Regions from separate parts of the Homo sapiens genome. Here region 2 is linked to region 1. The links come from fine-mapping of genetic effects on gene expression. A gene starts in region 1. The other region holds a variant in brackets. All regions are shown on one strand. Distances are from middle to middle.

Region 1 (2,905 bases):
AAACTCGGGGCCTTTTTGTGATTTGGGGGTAGGGCCTGCCCTACCGTATCCGTTGCCTCTGGATAAGGGCATGCCTAGCGAGGGCAGCACACTCCTAGCCCAGCACCCTCCTGCCTCAACCTCCCTCCACCCTCTACCCACCTGGAAAGGCTGTGGAACCCAAGGTGACCCTGAAAAGGTGGTCCTTCTGGCAGGATTGCTGATGGGGCCTGCCCTGCCCAGGCCCAGAGCTAGCCCTCTCTGCCAGGCAGGCACTGTTTAAAACCTGCAGACATCCTCGACAGACATTCTCTAAGACCTTGCCCACTCCAGTAATCCACAAGATTGAGGGCAGACAGGAAAGGAAAGGGTATCACTCAGACAGACTTGTCTTTCCCTGGAAGGCCAGCTGTACGGCTTCCATTCACTCCTGGAGCTGACCTGCCTCCCTCTTTGTCCTTTTCTGGCTGTGCTTAAGAGCCTAGCTTCCCTGGCAGCCTAAGGTCAGGGTCTGTGACTGGGATGCGTGCGGAGAAGGGGAGGAAGGCCGGTGACAGGCGGCTAAGGCAGCAGCAACGGGGGAGATATGAGAGCGGACAGAGGACCCAGGGAGAGGCCGGGCCCTCAGCTCACTGCCCCGCGGCCCCAGGGGCCACCTGTGCCCTGACACCACCTGACCCTCAGCAAACTTCCGCCCAGTGGCTTCCTGCCAGAAATCTAGCCAGCCGTGCACCCGCCTCCCTTACAAACAATCCTTGCCCAAAGGTTAGCAATGTGGCTGCCGTCACCTACGCCCAAGTCAACAGTTGACGCTTTAGTACGGGCCAGGTGGGCATGCGCCCCGTGAGCATCACCGAGAAAGTCTCACAAAAGCCCCTGGGGAGCGGGGGGAGGGCTCAGTCACGTGCCCCAGGCCGGTGCCCCACCCCCGCCCCCGCCGCCCCCCCGCCCTGGGGTTTCTGGTCCCTCCGGGAATGTTCCCAGAAGCGCCAGCCCAGCCCAGCCCGGGGTACCAAGGCGCCCAGGCCCGAGCGGGTAACCATGGCAACCCCAGGACGCCGGCTCCCGGCGGCCCCGCCATTCCTCCGCCCCGGGAGGCGCCCGGCAGACCCCCGACCCCCAGCGGGTCCTTTCCCCTGGGGCCGCCGGGGCGGGGCGGGGCAGGGCAGGGCGAGGAGCGCATGCGCGGCGGGGCCGGCCCCTCTCCCCGACTGGATACTCACAGACTGCCCCCAGCACCCCAGACAGGCGACACAGCCAGCGGTACCACCACGTCATGCCCTCTTCCTGCGCGGGCGGCGCAGAGCTGGCGGACGCCCCGGGCGCCCCACCTGAGCTGCTCATGGTGCCACCGTCAGGCGCAGCTCACAGCCCTCACAAAGGGCTCGGTAGCCGGCCGCGTCCGAGCCGGCGCGCTGCCTTGTGGGAGAGGGAGCATATTAGCATAGGGGGCGGGGCTTTCAGGCTGCGGCGAGGCGCGCCCGAAGGGAGGCGGGTGCTCATTAACATAGTGAGCGGGACCCTCATGCCGCGACTAGGGGCGTTTGAGGGGAGGTAGGTGCTCATTATTGTAGGGGGCGGGACCCGCAGGCTGCGGCGAGGAGCTGGGGGTGGGGAGCTCGTTAGCATACGGGGCGGGGCTCGCAGGCATCGGAGAGGTGTGCCCGAGGGGGGCGGGCGTCATTAGCGTAGGGGGCGGGGGCTCGCAGTTTGCGGCGACTTGCTCCCAAAGGAGGCGGGCGCTTATTAGCATAGGGGGCGGGGCCTGGAGGCGCGCAGACACCTTAGCGGTCAGAGCCTCACACCAGGACACACGGGTGGGGCTTCGCAGGGAGCTGGCTAATGCGCCATCCTCGGAGTGGAATCCTGATTGGATTTTCTTCCTGGATAGGAAGAAGATAACTAGGGACGTCCAGCGGCTTGCTCAGATCAAGATAGAGCCAACCGCGGCCAGCGAATCCCTGCCTTGCCATGGGATGGGTTTTCAAGCCAGGTCTGGACAGCTTATAAGAAAAAAACGCCGGTCAGCCTGCATGTTTTATTTATTGGTACCCGAGGAAATGGGGGCTGCTTTTCCAGAGTCCCCACCTCCAACCCCCTAGCCTTTTGGACATTGGAGAAGACTCTAAAGTAGATACCTAAGATTGGAAAAAGTTCGAATTGGAAAGCACTGAGACCAGGGGTCAACCCTCCAGGGCTGGCCAGACACGGAACAAATGTTCAATGACCCTCAGGTTCCTTCCTTTCCCTTCCAGGACTGAGGGTCCTGCATCTCCGGTACCCATGATTGGAGGGTCCAGTACTGGCCCCGCAGGCTGGCCTGAGCCTTCAGGAAGCCCTCGCTGAACTCCATCTCAGCCTGGCTGCTCTCTGACTCCCAGTAGAGCACCTGCTGCCCATGGAACGCTGTGGTCCTCAAGCTGTGGGTGTCCCGGATCTGAGAGAAAAGGGGCAGCCCAGAAGGACCGGCCACAAGTAATAATTAGCACTCACGGAAGCCTTCGTGTGCAAGGGCTCACAGATTCCGGATCACATTTAATGCTTACAAAGCCCTACTAGGAATACGCCATTACTCTACCCAGAAAACCGAGGTCCAGGGACGTTACATCACTTCCCCAAGGACACACAGTCAGGGTGCCAGAGCGGGGCCAGGCTGCCTCCTCTGGGGAAGCTGATACCCTGCAGAACACAGTTCTCCCAGGACACTTGAAACCTCGGGGAGGGTGCAGGGTGCTATTCTGTCCAAGTTATATCAGACTGTAAAATTATGCTTCAGTCTTGGGTTAGCTGTCAGTCTACATCAGAAAGGTCTTTACCATTCTTTACCATTTCGCTTTTTTTTTTTTTTTTTTTTTGAGACAGAGTCTCACTCTGTTGCCCAGGCTGGAGTGCAGTGGTGCGATCTGGGCTTAGTGCAACCTCCACC
Region 2 (2,905 bases), 44 kb before region 1:
GACACGGCCCCAAGTTTGGGGTCTCTGAGTCCTGTGTGCTGTACACTGCACTCACGGCCTCCTTTGTCCTGCCCTGTTCTGCCACTGGATGGCCCAACAGAGGTCTTCACTGTGGACCAGCGAAGCCCCTAGGCACCGCCTCCTGAGCTGTGAGCTCGCAGGGATCTTGGCTGTTGGGCTCATCACAGTGCAGTGGGACAGAATTCTAGGCAGCCAAGTGCCTGACTGATCCCACAGACAGCACCCAGCAAGTAACAAGTACATGAATCAGAAAACAAGCCACGAAGGAGGGGGAGGAGGTTGAGTCTCCCATCATTGGCTCTCGCAGTGCCTGCCAGACACTGTTAGAAGTGCTTTATGTGCTTGAGCCCAGGAGTTCGAGACCAGCCTGGGTAATATAAGGAGACCCTGTCTCTACAAAAATAATAATAATTATTATTATTTTAAAATATGGGCCAGGCGCAGTGGCTCACGCCTGTAATCTCAGCACATTGGGAGGCTGAGGCAGGTAGATCACCTGAGGTCAGGAGTTCGAGACCAGCCTCGCCAACATGGTGACACCCCGTCTCTACTAAAAATACAAAAATTAGCGGAGCGTGGTGGCGCATCCTGCAGTCCCAGCTACTAGGGAGGCTGAGGCAGGAGAATCGCTTGTACCCAGAAGGTGGAGGTTGCAGTGAGCTGAGATCACACCATTGCACTCCAACCTGGGCAACAAGAGCAAAACTCCATCTCAAAAATTAATTAATTAATTAAAAAATTAAGAAGTGCTTTCTGGATAGCGGCTGTTAGGTCTCTCAACTGCCCTGTGAGACAGGTACCGGACTGCCCTCCTAATGTTCATGATGATGTCTTCTTCCTTACTTTGCAGATAAGGGCGATTTCAAACTATTTTATCGCCATCATCATTATTGTTCTAACTGGTACTGAGGTCGGTCAGAAAACACAGTCTCTGAGACGGCAAGCCTTCACAGCGGCTGTCTCTCTCTATGGCCCAGCATGTGGTCAGCTTCCATGACGGCCCCGTGTAGTCCTGCCCTTGGCCTTCTGTGTGAGTCCGTCAAGTCAAGCTTCTTGACGATGCTGCTTAAATCTGTCATTACCAAGTATTTGCCTACTTGCTATCAACTCCTGAGAGAGGGGTGTAAAAATCTCCCACTCAGGCTGGGTGCAATGGCTAACACCTGTAATCTCAGCACTTTGGGAAGCCGTGGTAGGAGGATTGCTTAAGCTCAGGAGTTCAAGACCAATCTGGGCAACATAGCGAGACTCCACCTCTACAAAAGAAATTTTAAAAATTAGCTGGGCGTGGTGGCGCACACCTGTAGTTCCAGCTACTCAGGAGACTGAAGCAGGAGGATTGCTTGAGCCCAGGAGGTCGAGGTTGCAGTGAGCCGAGATCTCGCCACTGCACTCCAGCCTGGGTGACAGAGCAAGACCCTGTCAA[G/A]AAAAAAGAAAAAAGAAAAGAAAAGAGAATTCCCCCACTCTGCAAAGGACAGTCTTTAACACAAATAATGCTGGAACAAATCAATGTCCCGAGGCATCAAAGTGAACCTCAACCTTTTTTTCACATCCCACCCCAAAATTAACTCCAAAAACTAGAAAACCTCTAGCAGAAAACATCAGAGAAAATCTTTGTGACCTTGGATTAGGCAAAGATTTCTTAAATATGACACCAAAGGTGTGATCCATCAAAGAAAAAAACTGATCAACTAGACCATCAAAATTGTAAATATTTACCCTTCAAAAGACATCACGAAGAAGCAGACTGGGAGGAAACATACATAACCCTTTAAAGAGTTAGAATGTATATGCTAATTCCATTCCTTTAGTGGTAGTTCATCAAAGTTTCTAGTAAATTCATATCTTTACCCTCCCCTTGAACATCGCAGGACCATAGAACCTTTTAATTCCAATTATTTCCCTCCTAACTTTAAGACGATTATTACCTTGTATTTTTCTTTTATCTTCATTTAAACAACACATGACATTTTTACCACCAATAATTGTTTAGATTTGCCCACATATGACAATCTCTTCGACTTTCATCTCTTCTTATACCCCAATTTTTTCATCTGGGGTTATTTTCCTTCTGGCTCAAACATATCTTTTAAAACTTCCTCAAGTGGCCGGGCATGGTGGGCTCACACCTGTAATTCCAGCACTTTGGGAGGCTGAGGTGGATGGATTGCTTGAGCCTAGGGGTTCCAGACCAGCCCTGGCAACATATGGAGACCCCCATCTCTACAAAAAAAAAAACAAGAATTAGCTGGGCATGGTGGTGCACACCTGCAGTCCCAGCTACTCAGGAGGCTGACGTGGGAGGATCACCCAAGTCTGAGAGTTCAAGGCTGCAGTGAGCCATGATTGCACCACTGCACTCCCATCTGGGCAACAGAGTGAGACCCTGTCTTAAAAAATAAAATTAATTTTACAAAAAATTTCCTTAAGCAAGGGTTGTTTGTGGGACACCTTCTTGATTTTTATTTGCCTATGATTGTCTTTATTTTTTTCACTGAATATTGAATTGTATAGGTGGGTAATCCTTTGTGTCTTTATTTTTTCCACTGGATATTGAATTCTAGGTTGACAATCATTTGCATCTTTAATTTTTTTCACCGGATATTGAATTCTAGGTTGGTAATCATTTGCTCTGAGCATTTTGAAGACATCATTTCTCTGTTTCCTAATTCCCATTGTTGCTCCTGAATAGTAAGTTCTCAGCGTAACTATCTTTGAAGATAATCTATATTTTCTCTTGGGCTCTTTTATAAGACTTCTCTTGGTCTTCAATGTTCTGTATTTTTATTCTTATGTGACTCGTGTGGAATCCTTTTTCTTTGGCTTGCTTGAGAGTCACTGGGCTTCTTAAATTTGTGGGTTGCTATCTTTCATTATATCTGAA

What was found. PIP is the estimated chance that this variant, and not a neighbour inherited with it, causes the effect.
Region 2: its variant is fine-mapped to the expression of CACFD1 in subcutaneous fat (GTEx, PIP 0.98).

Annotation. Positions count from the first base shown.
Region 1 is chr9:133,458,485-133,461,389 of GRCh38, reverse strand. It overlaps CACFD1 (calcium channel flower domain containing 1), which reads right to left and starts at 1,412. Exons shown (of 5, transcript NM_017586.5): 1 at 1,203-1,412. The coding sequence starts at 1,323. It overlaps ADAMTS13 (ADAM metallopeptidase with thrombospondin type 1 motif 13), which reads right to left. Exons shown (of 29, transcript NM_139027.6): 29 at 2,004-2,416. The coding sequence ends at 2,210. RefSeq lists silencers at 897-1,196, 1,487-1,586, 1,597-1,816.
Region 2 is chr9:133,502,639-133,505,543 of GRCh38, reverse strand. No RefSeq gene overlaps it. Among named protein-coding and RNA genes, the nearest start is that of MYMK, 21 kb to the left of the region's middle. The variant G/A (reference allele first, on the strand shown) is at 1,448.